Regions from separate parts of the Homo sapiens genome. Here region 1 is linked to region 2. The links come from fine-mapping of genetic effects on gene expression. A gene starts in region 2. The other region holds a variant in brackets. All regions are shown on one strand. Distances are from middle to middle. Region 1 overlaps CCDC136 (coiled-coil domain containing 136). Region 2 holds the start of CCDC136 (coiled-coil domain containing 136).

Evidence for each region. PIP is the estimated chance that this variant, and not a neighbour inherited with it, causes the effect.
Region 1: its variant is fine-mapped to the expression of CCDC136 in whole blood (INTERVAL, PIP 0.97).

The regions. Positions count from the first base shown.
Region 1 is chr7:128,816,752-128,825,635 of GRCh38, reverse strand. It overlaps CCDC136 (coiled-coil domain containing 136), which reads right to left. Exons shown (of 18, transcript NM_022742.5): 17 at 7,772-7,878; 18 at 3,506-3,837. The coding sequence ends at 7,777. Among named protein-coding and RNA genes, the nearest start is that of FLNC, 9.2 kb to the left of the region's middle. The variant G/A (reference allele first, on the strand shown) is at 4,945.
Region 2 is chr7:128,788,546-128,797,591 of GRCh38, reverse strand. CCDC136 (coiled-coil domain containing 136) reads right to left here and starts at 5,624. Exons shown (of 18, transcript NM_022742.5): 1 at 5,165-5,624; 2 at 2,990-3,244; 3 at 2,824-2,898. The coding sequence starts at 5,180. RefSeq lists silencers at 6,241-6,509, 6,048-6,517.

The DNA.
Region 1 (8,884 bases), 28 kb before region 2:
CTCAGGAGTTTGGAGCAGCCTGGGCAACATGGCAAAACCCCATTTCTGCAAAAAATACAAAAATTAGCTGTGCGCGGTGGTGAGCACCTGTAGTCCCAGCTACTCTGGAAACTGAGGTGGGAGGATGGCTTGAGCCTGGAAGGTGGAGGTTGCAGTGAGCCGAAATTGCACGAGTGCACTCCAGCCTGGGCAACAAAGCCAGACCCTGTCTCAATCAATCAATCAATTAATCAATGAAATGAACAGAGAAGGACATGTCCTAAAGGGAGGGGTTTTGTAGTCTAAGCAAAAAAGTGGGAAAAGCAGGCCCACATTCCTGTCATTAGGCAGGGTCTAGGTTCAGGTCCCCTAGCTGGGGACCACCCTACTAGAACCTGACCTCTATCCTGGCTTGTAATTCCAGGTTAAATCAGTGATCTTTGCTGTCTTAGTCCATTTGGGCTGCTGTAACAAAACACTATAGACCGGGTGGCTTATAAACAACAAGAATTTATGTCTTACAATTCTGGAGGCTAGGAAGTCTGAGATCAAGATGCCTGCAGATTCCATGTCTGGCGAGGGGCCTACTCCCTCACAGATGGCTGTAGTTTGTTTTGTTTTGTTTTGTTTTGTTTTCTTTTTGAGATGGAGTTTCACTCTTGTTGCCCAGGCTAGAGTGCAATGGCATGATCTCGGCTCACCACAACCTCTGCCTCCCAGGTTCAAGCGATTCTCCTGCCTCAGTCTCCCGAGTAGCTGGGATTACAGGCATGTGCCACCACGCCCGGCTAATTTTTTGTATTTTTAGTAGAGATGGGGTTTCTCCATGTTGGTCAGGCTGGTCTCGAACTCCTGACCTCAGGTGATCCGCCCGCCTCGGCCTCCCAAAGTGCTGGCATTACAGGCATGAGCCACTGCGCCCGGCCTGGCTGTAGTCTTACTATAAACTTACGTGGCAGAAAGGGTGAGGGATCTCTCTGAAGTCTCTTTAATAAGGGCTCTGATCCCACTCCTGAGGCCTTTGGTCTCATGACCTAATCACCTCCCAAAGCCCCCCTCCTAATATTATCACTTTAGGGGTTAGGGTTTCAACATATGAATTTGCAGGATAGGGGGCAGACACAAACATGCTTACCATAGCATTTGGCTATAAGTCCTTTCCACCACCCATACCCATGTTCTTCAGTCAACTGGTGGCGGCAGTAAAGTGGGTAAATAGCAGTCTCACTATACTGAAAAGCAAGCAGCCAGTGGCACCAGGTCAGTTGTGAAATAATTTCTTTAGGTTACAACTGAGAACATACAATCTAATATAATTGACTAGGGTGGTGCTTCTCAAATGTTACCGTGCATACGAATCAACTGGGCATCTTGTTGGAAATGCAGATTCTGCATCAGTAGGTCTGGGTTGGGGCCTGAGATCTGCCTTTCAAATAAGCTCCCGGGCAATGCTGATGCTGCAGATCTGTGGGTCACATGGACTAGCAAGAAGCTAGACCAGCCTAGGTCAGAACTGTCTTCAAAGAGGAGTCACTTAGAGCTGGGGTGCACAATCCCCAGGCCATGGACCGATACTGTCAGGAACTTGGCCACACAGCATTAGGTGAGTGGTGGCTAGGCAAGCATTACCACCTGAGCTCTGCCTCTTGTCAGATCAGTGGCAGCATTAGATTCTCATAAGGAGCAGGAACCCTATTGTGAACTGCGCATGTGAGGGATCTAGGTTGCACACTCCTTACGAGAATCTAGCTAATGCCTGATGCTCTGAGGTGGGACAGTTTCATCCCGAAACCATCCCCATCCCCTCTCCATCTGTGGAAAAATTGTCTTCCATGAAACCGGTCCCCGGTGCCAAAAAGGTTGGGGACCGCTGATTTAGACAAAGGCAAAAGAGGCATATGGCACTGTCCTCAGTTTGCCTAGTTGCAGTCACGTTTCTAGGAGGCTAGTCACAATTTCAGCACTAGCCCCATGTCTGCCAAAATGGACTTTTGATTCAGCCGTGTCACTTCTCTGGGCTGAATACAACTTGAAAATATCCTAATTCTAAATGTCCTTGCTACTCCCTGTAGGTAAGAGCTAGAGAAGGAAAGAATTCATTTAGCTTGGCAGTGCTACCACAGTATACACTCTGTACATGTGTTTCTTTGGATGTTTGATTGAATGGAACAAAGTCCTTTTGGGTGGGAGGGAGGAAGAAAGAGGGGTCCAAAGAAAGCCAGGAGTCATGGGGTCATTGTTTCCACTATGGTTTAAGAATATGCTTGGGGCTGGGCAATATGCCTCATGCCTGTAATCCCAGCACTTTGGGCAGGCTGAGGCAGGAGGATTGCTTGAGCCCAGGAATTTGAGACCAGCCTGGGCAAAATGGTGAAACTCTGTCTCTACAGAAAATATAAAAATTAGCTGGGCATGGTGGTGTATGCCTGTGGTCCCAGCTACTTGGGAGGCTGAAGTGGGAGGCACTTGAGCTCAGGAGGTGGAGGTTGCAGTGAGCCAAGATGGTGCCACTGCACTCCAGCCTGGGTGACAGAGTGAGACCCTGTCTCAAAAAAAAAAAAAGAAAAAGAAAAAAAGAAAGAAATAAAAAGAATACGCTTGGGGTCTTCTTTCGTAAGGAAACATTCATGATGATAAACTCCAATCACAAAGGTTCCACAGGAATGAAGGTAAACAGGAACACACATAAACTATCCTCATCATTCTACTTGTCCCAATTAGATCCATCTTCAGGCCTCTGTCCTGCTCTAAGCTCCAGGAGGCTGAGCTTGAAAGATTACATCACCTGGGCACCTCTGCGCTTTGTCTTCCCATTGAGTTCAGCTGATAAGGTACCAGTAGAATACTGGCAGGTGGGAGGAGAAGGTAGGGGAATATATATCCCACTTCCTCACGGCTCTGGCGGGGGCTGCACCCCATGTGGCTGCCACTCCTGCCTGGGGCCCATTTTCAGAGCTCCAGCTCTTGCTTCCTTTCCTTCCTGCTTCAGCCTGGGATGCTAACAGCTTTACACTGTTGCTAGTGCCTGGTACTTCACTATTTTTTGTTGCTTCTCCTAACTCTGCCTTTGGTACATAGTCTCTTCATTAAACTCTCTTCATGTAAAGCTTTGAGTGTGCCACCTGTTTACTGCCAGGACCCTGGCTGATTAAAGTCATCTCTGAGGGCGAATCCCTTGAGAAGTCACAAAGGCTAAGTCACGAAGGCACACACGTGGATCTTCTTAGGGCGGCCTTCTCATGTAGATAGGTGTGGGCACAGAACCTTAGGGGAGGTCTCCCCAGCCCTCAGTCACTCCATTTCTCCATGCTCAGGAGAGCACCTCAGGATGGGGTTAATAAGCACAGACTAACCCCTCTGTGAGTCAGTCGACAGCACAAGGGGCTAGCCTCATTTCTGAGGCCATCTGCAAGGTGAGAAGCCGCATTTAGGAGTCAGACCCTTATGTGAGGTACTTGGTTAAAGGGGGACTGCTCTGTTCTGGTTGTGTTGTGAGGCATTTAGCAAATAAAAATCCACAGTCTCATGTAATTCAGTTGATATTTAATTACAAGGAACTCAGGTTCTTACACAAGGCAGGAGATGGAAGTCAGCCGCTCCCCACAAGCCTTTTCAGCCTGGGTGACTGAGGCTGAGGAGATGGGGACACATGGAACATATGGGGAGGGTTCTGGCACAGTGTGTCCTGCCCAAAGCTGAGGGTGGTGGCCACTGGGGATCTGCCCTCGCGCTGGCCAAGGTCTGCCATCACTCCATGAGGCAGAACTCTGACTCCTGCTGTCGCATGTTGGGTAACACATACAGAGCCACAGCTGCAATAGCCAAGAATACCATAGGCTTCCACAACCCAAACATGTTCTGTGGGGACCAAAGAGAAACTGTGAGTGCCCAGCCTCCTGAACCCTGCCCTAAGCCAGAAGTCACCTGCCTATGGGTGCCCAAGACACCTCAGGAACATTGTGGATCAGTCTCTGTTACCTCCTGGGTAACCGGTGGAGGTAAGTGATCTCTCAGTCCTGGCACCACTAGACATGTGGCCCAACACTGTACGCACCACCTTAGGTGACCGCCTGTATTCAGGCCTCCGTTTCTCCCCATGGGCTGAGAATACTAGCTCCCATGTGAAGAAGCAGGCTCAGGGGCCAGACTTCCAAGTGGTTGCAATGAGAAAGGACTGGATGCCATGGCAAGAAAGAGGAGGGGAAATCTGGGGCTTTGAGAAAAGCAGCAGCACCTCATTAGTTTCACTGCAGTGAAGTGAACTCAGAGTCAAGAGGATGGGGAAGGGGGAATAAGGCTGAGGGGAAATGAAGAAAGTGCACCACGGAGTGCAGGTAAGTAGGAGGTTCTTAGGCAGACAAACTTTGACAGAGAATGACATTGGTTCAAGGAAATTTAAGGAAACCTGTCACTGGGCCTAGGTCATTAGAACACTCCTAATCACCAGGTATGTTGACTGACTTCCTGGTGCATGTGCTAGAGTATGCTGAGGCTTCCAGACACTGCCGGCCACTAGGGAACCCTGCTGATTCATGGGACAAGTGGCACCATCGAAGATATCCAAAAAGCATCCATTAGGTAATATGAAAATCTTAGACAAGAAAATACATACTTGGGGAAATAGGTTTTATTTTTATTACTTTTTTACTCTACTAACTGAAAGGTAGAATTTGGATTTTGAGTCATAAGCTATGGCATAGGTAACAGAAGGATGGTTTCAAGTAAAAATGGAATATAGCCCATTAATGCTAAGAACACATTTTCTCAGATGATAATTGATCTAAAAAGAGGACTTTAAGCCTGCTAAAGAGCAAAGAAAATCTCCTGAGCTTATAGAAATAGCTACTAAGAACAACAGAAGGTATGAAATGGAAAGCCAAGCAATGTTACAGGTGGATATACAGAGTAACTCATGTAAGAAAACCAAGAGATCCGGAGGCTGAGGGAGGAGGATCGCTTGAGACC[G/A]GGAGTTCAAAGTTACAGTGAGCCATGATCATGCCGCTGCACTCTAGCCTCGGTGACAGAGCGAGACCCTGTCTCTAAAACCAAAAACAAAAACTAAGAAGGGAGCTAGCTAGAAAAAAATATTTATATGCTCAGATGCCTCTATCCTAATGTGCATTGCTAAGAATGTTAGTCTGGTGTTCTTAAAGGAGGGAGGAGCTGAAATCCTTAAATGTGACCCGTGCACCTCACACTGGGCAAAGGCAAGCTTCTACATGGGATGGGGAAAGGGCTGGTGTGGGTGTCCCAAAGGGGAAGTCGTGTCAAACTCTCCTTTTAAACTAGGTGACCTAAGTGACAAATCACCGGAATCATGTTTTTGGACGTTGAGTTGTTTGACAGAATTTTCTATGATCTTTGCAGATAATATGCAGAAATAAGGGTAGGATGACAGTACAGTTTGTTGAATGGCAGGTAAGTGACCAATGAGCTGAATAAAAGAACCCCAAGAGACGACACTCTAGAGGCTCTGTCCTCACTCTGTCCTCTGTAGATGAAGACAGGGAAGGAGGGCTTGCCACCCCTGTAGATGATGTGAAGGTGGCAGAGGAAGTGAATATTTTAAAACCACAGGGTCAAGATTAAAAACACATACACACAAAACCTTATAAGGTAAGAACAATGAACTATAATAGGGAAGAATGGAAAATTCTGCCTTTGAAGCCTCAAAATCAAATGCAGGTACAGAATGGGGAGAGGACGCTTAGCATACACAATCTGCAGAGGGGCTTATAAAAAATACATGAAATAAATAAATAATATATTAGTTACCTAAAGAGCTAATGTGATCTGAGGTTGCCTAAACACAAGTATGGTGTCTTCCTACTTGGGACCAATGAAGAGAAACTGCTCAAAATGAGGAGAGACAATAAAGGGAAGCAAGACTGGAATCTTATTTGTTGCTAATATTGAGTCCTTATAATCTGACTCGCAGCTTCCTGGCTGTTTTACTTAACTTCTCTATGCCTTAGTTTAATCATATATAAAAAAAAATAGGAGTAGCTTCTTCATGGGGTTGTTGCAAGGATTAAATCAGTTAATATACGTAAGTGATTAGAACAGTGCCTGACACATAAGACTGCATTTTGTAAGTGCGTGCTCTTTTTATTAATGATGGGGTATTTTATAATTTATAGAATACTTTCATCTACTTCAACCCATCTGGTCCTGACAAAAACCTGTGAGGAGGGCAGAGGTTCGATCATCCTTTGCTTACATTTGAAGAAACTAGAGCTCAGAGTGTGCATTTTGCTCCCTGGGACAACGCCTGTCAGTAGAGACAGACTCAACCAAGTTCTTCTGACCGCCTGGCAGCCACGCTTTCTACCACACTGTGCTCCCTCAGGTCCTGGCTGCACAGGTGCATGTTGGGGCCTCCTGGAGCTCTGGGGATAACAGGCCCCACCAGGAGAACCCTTCACCAGCAGTTCTTCCTCTCCCTCTGATTGGGCCGGGCTGGGTCTGAGGTAGTGGAAGGCTGTGGCTGAACTCTTTGGGTTTCACCCGTAGTGCCTTAAGACTTCTGGGGGGTGACAGGGGAGAAACAGTCATAGAGAGGGGCCCCGTCACTAAAGCAGTTGTGGACCAGGGAGTAAAGGGAATACCTAAAGTCAAGAAGAAAAGTGGAGGCTTGAAGATGAGTAACAGGAAAGCTGGGGAGGGAGCAGGAGGAAGGACAGAAAAGGAAATGGAGAGAAGTGCCACCAACAAATCCTCCAGTTGCCACCCTGTGCATTAAGCTACATTCCGTTCACAGGAATGTGAGAAGAGAGGGGAGTGGAGGGGGAGGCAGGGAAAGCATGAGAGAGGAGCCAATGCAGGACTAGAGAGAATACCTTATGGGTTCCAGAAGGCAGGTGGAACCCCAGGCTTCTACCTTAGGCCGTAAGACCACATTCTGCCTCCTGAATTTGGTATCCTGTTGACAGTGTACATTACATGTGTGGGAGCTGACAGGAAAGTGGCCAGAATATATCAGTCTTGATTTCCTGAGAACACACATCTCTGGCTAGTAGAAACTTTTCACTAATACCTCATTCTCTCCAGAAAACCTAGCTGGGGAAGCCAATTACCATGGAATCTGGCCCACAAAATAGATAAATAGATAACTAATAAAATTTCCCGGCATTCTGTTCTGACTTTTCCGGAGACTGGAAGTCCAGAAGCAGAGAACTGTTCAGTAGAAAGAGCAGAATACAGTAGGGGTTCGGTTCCATTTCACCAAGCTTGATGGACCAGCTTAGGTTGCCCTCCTACCAATGCCCCTGGGAGGATCATGAGGATCAGAGCTCTTCAGAGCTCCTCTCTCTCCCAACAGAAGAGGGATTCCTTATTTTGCCATCTTGGGTAGCAACAGTAGTGAGAACTTGGCTCCGGAGTTAAACCAAGACAAAGAGAGTCCAGGCCAGCCTTGCAAATATCAGCTCATCAGAAGTGGTCAGGCTAGCCATCACACAGAGGATGAGCGGGGATAAAGAAGTAGTGAGGCAGCTTTGACAGCAGCAACCAAGCTGGGCTTATCCAAGTTTTTCCCAGCCAAGGATTGAAACAAACCATGTCTCTGGCAAGCATTCCAACCTCCTATGCATTACGAAGACATGCTCAGAGATGTCAGAGGCTTTGCAGTAGCCCAAGGAAAAGTCAGAACTAAAACTCAGACCTGAGCATCACCTATTATAAAATGGCACAAGCAAGAAGCAAGCAGCTGGGAGAAAAGGGAAAGAGGAGAGGCCAGGGCAACCTGCACCCTCCCTCTATCCCTCAGAAGGAGAGGAAGCAATACCAGTACCTGCATTAGGACGACGTCTCAGCCCACCAGCACCAGAGCAAAGCCGAGATGACCACCAGGCCTACAAGAGGCAAGGAGAAGATGGGGGGATTGGGGGTAGGGGATGACTGCAACACACCAAAATGAGAAAGAAGCACGAGGAGAGACCAGGAGATGTGAGACATAAACGCATGGATCCAACAGATAATGAAGATGAGAAAACAAAGGGAAAAGAGAAAGGAATCAAGAGGTTAAAAAACAGGTAAGCTAGAGCAGTTGCATGTCTTTTCTGCTGCCTGGGCCTTGGTTCTTTCCACCGGCAGTCTGCAGGAATTGCAAAATTGAATGGGTTAAGCAGCAGCTAGGTCCAAGTCAGGCGGTGAGTCCAGTTTTCTTTCTGTCTCGTCACATACCTCTCATATCCTGTCAAGCAGGAGGTATCTGCATCTAGACCTTTCTTGTGACTTTTCCTAGGTCACTCTAGGAAGAGCCAGTCTTCTACCAGGTCACCTGTCCCTTTGTTCTAGCCTGCTTTCCATTAAGTTTCTTAGTATTTTGGGCTCTGGTCCCTTAGATCCCCTAGGAATCTAATGATATCATTGTAAGACAACATGCACCGAAACAAACTGACAATGGAGAAGGGCTAGTTCTTTCACTGCAACAATCTTCCAGAGAGAAACCGATTTTGCAAGGTGGTAATACACATGCCCTAGAGCTGCCTGCAAAAGACGCAGGACCCACGGGGCAAAGGGATCTCTCCATATATAGAAACATAGAATATATTTGAAGTAGAAAAATCAGGTCTAGCTTTAGAAATGTGGCACCGAAGGTAAAGACATCTGTGAGGCTCTGAACCAGCACGTGGTGGAATATGATGAGCTCAAGGAAACATGATAGTGGGAGGGGCTGCAGTGGTTCCGACTTTCCACATCTTAGGTAATGGTCCCCTGGCACAAGGTAAGCAGAGCACTGCACACTGGATCCTTAGCCAGTGCTGAAGACCAAATTGCTGGAAATTCCAGATATCCTCAGAGTTGACTGGATAATCCCACCACAAGAGGCTTTTTTTCTTTACCTCTGTTTAGAACAGAAAGAACCTGTAATGTAAGCTGAGGACTTACACAGGAAATACTC
Region 2 (9,046 bases):
CCAAGACCATCTCACTTGACTTAGCAACCTGACACAGTGGATCACTGTCTCCTTGAAGCACTTTCTGCTCTGGCTTACAGGGCATGACATGCTCCAGGAGTTCCTCTCACTTTACTCTTTTGTTCATTTCTCCTTCTATACTGGACCTCTAAATACTGGAGTGTCTCTGGGACTGGACCCTTTCTCCTCTTCTGGTGTCTCTCCATGTGACTGCACCATTATTTCCCATGGATTCTAATGCCAATTATATGCTAATGACTCCAAATTTACATCTCCGGCCCTGTTTTCTCCCTGGTTCTGCCTTTATATATCCAACTGCCTCAATATATTCACTTGGATGTCCACAGTTACTTCAAACTCAACAGAGGAAAACATGTTTTAAATGGCTCCCCTAGCCCCAAAACTTACCCCTTGCCAAGTCTTTCCCAATTCAATAAACATCACCACCTTCCATCAATTTTCTCAAGGCAAAGTCATCTTTCATGTCTCTGTTATCCCCTGATCGAATTCATTAGCAAATCCCGAGGGCTTCACCTTCAAAATATATTCTGGGCCGGGCGCGGTGGCTCACGCCTGTAATCCCAGCACTTTGGGAGGCCGAGGCGGGCGGATCACGAGGTCAGGAGATCGAGACCATCCCGGCTAAAACGGTGAAACCCCGTCTCTACTAAAAATACAAAAAATTAGCCGGGCGTAGTGGCGGGCGCCTGTAGTCCCAGCTACTTGGGAGGCTGAGGCAGGAGAATGGCGTGAACCCGGGAGGCGGAGCTTGCAGTGAGCCGAGATCCCGCCACTGCACTCCAGCCTGGGCGACAGAGCGAGACTCCGTCTCAAAAAAAAAAAAAAAAAGAATATATATATATATATATTCTGAATCATCTCCATTTCTACAGCCCTAACTCAAGCGACCATCATCTCTTGACTGGACTATTGCAGTAACTTGCTGACAGGACTCACTGTTCTGAGTCACTTCCCTCCATCTTAAGTGTTTCCACTTAGTGGCCAAGTTCTCTTTTAAAAATGTAAAGCAGATCGTATCATCCCATTCCTGGCTAAGACCCTCTCCTGGCTTTCTACCACACTTAACATGAAAGCCAAACCTCTTGGCTGGCCTACAAGATCCACTGTAATCTGGCCTCTGCCTGCCTCAGAACGTTCTCTTGCCAGGGTCCTCCACGTGCACTTTGCTGCAAACACAGTGGCCTCTGTTCTGTCGCTCAAACAAATGAAGCTCATTCTCACCTCTGGGCCTTTGCAGTTGCTGTTGCTTCTGCCTGGTATGCTCCTCCCTCAGATCTTGGATGGCTGGATCCTTTTCATTATTCAGGTCTTAGCTCAAATGTCATCTTCTCAAAGATGACTTTCCTAACTGCCATATCTAAAATAAACTCCCTTCAAGACCAGCCTGGCCAACATGGTGAAACTCCATCTCTACTAAAAATACAATAATTAGCCAGGTGTGGTGGCGCATGCCTGTAATCTCAGCTACTCGGGAGGCTGAGGCACTAGAATCGCTTGAACCTGGGAGGCAGAGGTTGAAGTGAGCTGAGATTGTGCCATTGCACTCCAGCCTGGGCAACAGAGTAAGACTCTGTCTCAAAATAAAATAAAATAAACTCCCATCCCACCTCCTCTCTGTATCATATTATTATATCGTGTTCATAGCATTTATTGCCATCTGAACTTGTGTTGTTTATTTTCTGCCTCTCTCCGTTAGAATGTACTCTTCATTAGGGCAGAGATGTGGTCTGTCTCATTCACAGCTGGTCCTCCAAGTATAAAGGCACCTCATAAATAGGTGATAAATAAATTAGTCCCATTTTACAGATAAGAAATGACATCTCAGAAAGATAAGTGACTTGCCCAAGATCACACAATTTCTAAGTGGTATAGCTGGGCCCAGGAATCTAGGTCATCCCAGATCAATGCCCACACTCTTCCCTATGTGACACGTGTCCTGCCACTTTCCTCCTCTGCAAGCCCCTTCACTGACCACCCTTCCTGTATCTACCTTTGCTTACATTTTCTGTCCCCGTCTCCTCTCCTCCCCACTTACACCTCTGCTTGCTCCTGTCCAGGCCTGCTTCCTGGCCTTCCTTTTTTTTCTCCATTTATACTTTTCTTTTGGCTTGATCTCAGTTCTCCCCAGAGTCCCTGCCGTTTTCTAGGGCAGCTCCCCTAAACCTTCCGGAGGCCCACAGAAGTAACAAAAGCTGCCTCTTTATTTGGTGGTGTGGTGGAATGTGGGGCATCTGCCTTGCTGCTTCCCAGAGACAAAGGGACGTGGGTGTTGGCAAAAAGGGATTTGGGGCCCACAAGCTCAGGTCCCAGGCAGCAACAGAAGTGCTGTCATCTGTCTCTCTTAATAGGTGCAGAGAGGCCCCACCAGTCACTTCTCATTGGCTTCATGCTTTCCCATGCCATCCTTGGAGGAACCAGAAAAAGGAATCCGGCTTGGAATTCAACTTGGATCACCCACCCCTGGCACTGACCAGGAGAACAAAGGGACAGGGATGCAGTATGAAGGAGGAGGCTGAAGGGGCAAGAGGAAAGAGCCCACCAGGGACAGGAGGTGACAGGGAGGCCAAGAAATGGAAGGGGAGGACAGAAGAGCCAGGTAGATGTGCAAAGAAAGAAAACTGGGGACAGAGGAGGATGGAGAGACAAGGAGAGGAAAAGGGTGAGACTAGTAGAGGAAAATGAGGTGAAATTACTGAATTTGGTTATTTTTATCTGCTGTGCTTCAGTCAAACCCTCAGGAAAAAAGTACTTAGGTGACCACTTGGATGGCCACCTCCCTCCAGTCCAAGTCCTGGGAATTACCTTGGAGCTGCTGGATCTGCTTGGTGAACACCTCTGCCTGCTGGGCGCTGGCTAGCCGTTCATCCTCCAGGAGCCCTGCAGGGAGAGGGGCACCAGTGTCAAGCTCGGATCCAGGGGAGTGCAGAGCCTCTGGGCCCGGGCACTGGGCCCTGGCCCAGGCACTCACCCTGTAGCTCCAAGGAGTCATCCTCATGCTGCCCTGCCAGTTCCCGGGTCTCCTCCAGTTCTGCCACCAGCTGCAGCACCTGAGCCCGCAGCTCCTCCAGCTCTGTCTCCGTGAGGCTCAGTCCCCGGTGCTTGTTGACTGACAGAGAGCCAACACTGCCACCTTTCTGCACTTGTTCTTCTTCTTCTTCCACCTCTTCTTCCTCCTCTTCCTCTTCCTCTTCCTCCTCATAGAGAGCTGGGAGTAACACCTCCCCTAGGAGACACAGCCATCCCACCAAGGAGTCAGCATCAACTTCCTTTCTGCCGTCCTTCCAGGGCCCTCAAACTCACTATGCCAGGGCAGAGATGACATACTAGTGCCACCTGGTGTCCCCCAAGGAGCCCCGGGGCAAGACCTGTACTCAAGATGAGTCCTCAGGTGTGAGAGTCAAGTTGAGAAGCAGCCCCTCCACCTCCCAGGCCCTTCCTGGACCAATGTTGCACTTGGTAGCCTCCTATCACTGCCTGTGGGCAGGCTGGTGCCCGCTCAGCCATGAGACACTTGCACAGGATTACCTGCTTCTTCTAGGCTGGCCTCTGAGTAGCAGGACAAGTAGTCAAGAAAGGAGACAGTGAGCGGATCTTTCGGTCAAATGGGGTAACAGTTACAGTTTGGAGATTTCTTGAAAGTTAAAAAACAAAACAAAACTGACCAGGCATGCTGGCTCATGCCTGTAATCCTAGCACTTTGGGAGGCTGAGGTGGGTGGATTACTTGAGGCCAGGAGTTCCAAACCAGCCCGGTCAACATGGTGAAACCCCTTCTCTACTAAAAATACAAAAAAATTAGCTGGGCGTGGTAGTACACGCCTGTAATCCCAGCTACTTGGGAGGCTAAGGCAGGAGAATCGCTTGAACCTGGGAACTGGAGGTTGCAGTGAGGCGAGATCGAGCCACTGGCACTCCAGCCTGGGCAACAGAGTGAGTCTCCGTCTCAAACAAACAAACAAACAAAAACAACCAAACAAAAACTATCCAGGTGGCTTGTGAAAAATCAGCCTTTCCATAATAAGAAAACATTGCCCGTCAGCAGGTAGAGAAAGAAAATATCTGATTGTAGAGGTTTCATTGGACAAACTCGGGCGCCCTTTCAAATGTATATTATTAAATACCTGTTTGAAATTTTCTACAAGGTCCACCTTGTTTTTCCCTGCTGCATGTCACAAGGTCTCCTCTCCCCTAGCTGAGCCATATGAGGCCCCTCCTACTCTGCTGACCACAAAGTAGATTTCAGGGGAAGTTTTAGGCTGTACTTGTGTGTAAAAGAAAGCCTACCATTTTAATGCATTAAAAAAACTGGGGTTTGGTGCTGGCCCCCAGCCTCTGGTTGTGAGCACCCGCTCCTTTACTGCAACGCAGTCCCTATAAATAGCAAAATGTTGTCTGGATGGTGATTGTTTGCTTTGTTTTAAAATTCTGAATCTCTGGTCTTACTTTATCTAATATCAGCAGCCTTAGGTTCAACTGGGACCCTTCGTGCCATCTGTCCCCCTTAGGGGGAGCAGGTTTGCCCATACTGAATGTGCAACGTGCAACACTTCACAGGAAGTACTGGCAAATGGACCAGCGTCCTTCCAGGGGCCTGGTGTTGGCAGCAACTGCCAAGTCACATGGGTGTGGTGGGGATACACGTGTGTTGGGAGGATGGCCTCACGCGCCCCCTCCTAGGCTCTCTCTTTCAGGCAATAAGGTATCCTAAAGAACCAAAGCCACAGGCTTCCATTCGAAGTTAATGTTGGTGGCCCCAGAAAGACAATTCACATGCCCAGTTCCTTGCTTTTTAAAATAAGAGACAGCTTGGGATCTGGGTCGGCAGGCAGTGAGGACAAACCCCCTGCTGAAAGGCTGCTTCAAAGCTCTGTCCAACAAGGCCTCTTTCTCTGTCTGGCAGCTCCCTCGGGACACATAACCTGGTTAGCTGGGGGGTGATTGGGGTCCCGAAGGGATGCATCCTGAACTTCTGTCAAAGCCTGAGCCCTGGGAAGGGCTGGAGCTCTGAGCTGCAGGAAGAGGGGCTAAGATGAACTGAGGGAAGGGCTGTGTCCTGGCTCAGAGGCCTGGGGGTCAGAGGGAGGAAAGAAGGGAATTAAGGGAGGAGGGGAGGGGAAAGAAAGAAGCCTTTTGGGAAAACTCACCCTCCATAGCTTGCATCCCCCGTCGTTCCAGGGACCCCCAGCGTTGGCCCTTCTTCCTCTCACAGCCCTCGGAAGCCTCATAGGAGCCTAGAGTGGTCACTGTGGGTCCTGAGAGCAGGGAGAAAGGAGGGGCTGGGGGGTGGGGGGCTGGCTGCGGGCTGGGGTGCAGAGGAAAGAAGGGGACATGTCTTCCAGCTCCTCGAGGCTCTGGGATCTGTAATCCCAGTGGAGGTGCCTGACTCACTCTGGCGGCTCTGCGACTCCTCTCTCTCGGCCACCTCTCAGCCCTGCCTCCCAGCCTCCTCAGAACCCGCTGTTCCAGGACCCTCTTGCTTGCACAGAAAGAAAGAGGGGGTGTGCGTATTTAGTCCGGGGGGACAGGGAGGAGAGGGCCAAGACTGAAAGAGGGCGGGAGCCAGTGAAGAAGAGGCTGAAAGGCTGAGGTGGCCTACAGATGGAGGGAGGGAGGAGTGGGGGGCGTGCGGGAAGGGGTAGGGCTGCGACCGCTCCCCTCCCCTCTCCTCCCATTCTCTCGCTGGACCTTGCCCACCCCACCCTCGCCCCGCGCTCAGGAGTCTCCGGGGCTGCAGGAGGTGTAGGGTCTGCAGTCCCGAAGGCTGGAAGCACCGTCGGACTGAAGTGGAGAGACGCGCTGGGGAGGGACCACCAGGCAGGATGCGGCCGGTGCGCGGAAGCCTCAGTCCCAGGCCGGAAGGATGGAGACCGGGCCCCGGTGGAGGCCAGGATGGAGGGAGGAAGACTTTGGGCGGAGAAAGGGGAGCCGCGGAGGCCGGGAGCACCTGGGGGTCTGGAAGGAGGAGGGATGGAGGAGAGAAAGGAGGGGCGGTAGACAGGTGACGGAGGGGCGGCTCTGACCTGGGCCCGGGCAGCTCCAGCCCGCGGCTCCCGCGCCGGCTCCGGCGCCCGCCTCCATGACCGCTCCCGCCGCCGCCTTCCGCCTCCCTGAGCAGAAGCCGCAGCCGCGAGCCCGGGGACCCGAGCCGGGTGCGCAGGGAGGGAGGGAGGGCGGACGAGGGGGCGGGGCCTGGCCGGGCCTCCTGACACCGCCCCCCGCCGCTCGCCGCCGCCCGGAAGCCCTCCCAGCACTCGGGAGCTCCGAGCCCGTGCAGGGGGCGGCGCGGGAGGGTGAGCGCGACCCCGGATACGCCCCAAGGCTCTCCCCTAGAGAGCGCGGGGAGCCGCGGGGCCCGGACAGCGTCAGGAGCTCCTAGGCTTATGGCTGCCCCAAGAGGGAGGAGCGAGATCCCCTGGTTCTGGCGGCGGGTCCCCCCGGGGTCTGCTGTGCCCAGGGACCCTTCTGCACCAGGTGTCAGGGCCCGGTCATGCTCAGCAATGGGGACGGCAAAGGACGAGGTGGGACTGTTTCCTCCAAAAGCGCAGACACGCGCGCCCCTCCTTCCCTCCCTCCCCCGCCCGGCCGGCGCCCCCACCTAGCAGTCCGCGCTGACTCCGGCCCCAGGCCCTGCCCACCCCTGCCCGGTGGCCCCTCGGCAGCCTGGGGGCCGGAGGAGGGAAGTCGAGGCCCGGATGGGCGAACGGCAGGGCCCTGACCTCTCCGCTTTCCGCGACCCCCCACCGAGCCAGGGCCAAGGACCCTCTTAGGAGGAGCCCTCCGGTGGCCCCATCAAGCCTCAGGGCCGGAAGACCCCCTCTCCTCCGCCCTGTCTTCCCTTCCGGTCCCACACCCGGTGGGCTGCGAGCCACGCCCCCACAGTAGCCCGCTCAGAGTGGGCACGACTGATGTTCACTCTCGTGGAAGGGAGATTTGGAAGCCCAGGGGGCTTATTTCACGTCTTCAACCATTCGTTTATTCAGGCTATGACTACTGGGTGCCGGCTCTTGAAGAGGCAGTTCTCACATCTCGGCAGGTCTCGGCAAGGATAGAAGTGGGCACAGTTGGGAACAGGGGCTCCCCAGCACATCCAGGAAATGGCTGGAAGATTCCTAAGCCAGGGACACACGCGGATCCCCTCTCTGGCACATCCACTCACAGGTCGAGGGCTAGTATTGTCTGCGTTCCCCCCGCTGCAGGAAAGGGATCCGGATCCAGACCGCAACAGAGGGTTCTTGAATCTCACGCAAGAAAGAATTCAGGGAGGTCCATAGGATAAACTAAAAGCAAGTTTATTAGGAAAGTAAAGGAATAAAGAATGGCTACTCCATAGACAGAGCAGCCCCAAGGGCTGCTTTTTTTGGTTATTTCTTGATGATATGCTAAACAAGGGGTGGTTTATTCCTGACACCCCCTTTCAGACAATGTAGGGTAACTTTCTGATGTTGCCATGGCATTTGTAAACTGTCATGGCACTGGTGGGAGTGTAACAGTGTGAGGATTACTAGAGGTCACTCTCACTGCCATCTTGGTTTTAGTGGGTTTTGGCCGGCTTCTTTACTGCAAGGTGTTTTATCAGCAAGGTCTTTATGACCTGTGTCTTGTGCCAACCTCCTATCTCATCCTGTGACTTAGAATTCCTTAAACGTCTGGGAATGCAGCCCAGTAGGTCTCAGCCTCATTTTACCCAGCTTCTATTCAAGATGGAGTTGCTCTGGCTCAAATGTCTCTGACATCCCACAGGCTCCCACGTCCACAAGCCATCCCTGTTCCACGGGAAGGAAGCCCTTCTTTGCCTGGACTTCCCCCTCCTTTTCAGCTGGGGGTCACCTCCAGGTGGCCTTCTCTGACTGGCACCCCATCCCTGCCCCACTAGGCGCTTTTGTGGTGCTCGCCCCTATTTGTCTGTAACAGCACCAGGCCCTCCGGGTTGTCCGGGCTCTGCCCAGTTTCCTGAAGGTTAGGGGGATCTTAGTTATCTTTGTATTTCCAGCATCTGACAGAGTTTCTGACACAGGATAAATGAGTTAAAGGTCAATCTCCCAGCTACCCAGTTAATGCCCTGTCTTATCATTTAACATGATTTCATATTTGTGGTGTTAAATGTTGCCTATTAATGATGATGTTGCCCATAAGTCTCTCTCCCTCCCCCAACTCCTTGCTCCTTTTTTCTTCCTCTGCCTCTCTCATTATCTCAGCAGAGAGATGATGAGCAGAGATCAAGAATGTTTTCTTTGCTCCCAGATGACAAGATTCTACTCCAGATCCTGTGGCCAAGGTGACACAGTTGTGGGGAAAGTTGAACAAGCCCACCCAGACCCCTTCTGCAGAGGGTTTACTGCAGACGCCAAGCCTGTCCAGATTTGGGGAGCAGAGCATTTGTCAGGGGTGGTAGAAAGGGGCTGCACTGGGGGCTTGAGGGATGCAGTGCTCTGGGAACTGGCAAAGACTAGTTCTGGAAGCTTACTGGCTGTTCTTTCTGCCCAGCGCAGCTCCTCCTGGTTCTGCCTCCGCCAGCAGGGCCACGTTAGCGGTTGGCCTTGACTGCTGACCTCTTGGTGAATGTAGGGAGGCACAGCAGGGAAATTGTCGATGGTGACATCCAGGGTTCAAGCTCTCCTCAGGGAGCTCTGATCCTGAGTATTAGGACTAATCTCTCCCTGGCTCCTGGCATGCAGGTCACCTTTCACCCTTGATTTGGGAGAACATTTAAGAGAGACCTGAACCAGTCTATTTTCAGGAGCCAAACTTGGTCAAACCCTGGCCAGACCAGTACTGGGTTGAGGGCGGAGGGAGGCAGTTAAAAGGCGGGAGAAAAGAGCTTAAGAGATATGAGGGAGGTGGGCTGTGGTCCAGAAATGCATCTCTGAGGGGCCAGGAGTGGTGGGCATGTCAGCCAGGTGATCAACCTAGGGGGATGATCTGAATTAATCCCTGTAATCCCTGGACTCAGGGCTCAGCCTCCCTCCTAATCCCATCCCAGGAGATCATCCTCTTTGAGGACTGATGTAGCCATTTATCCCCCTTTA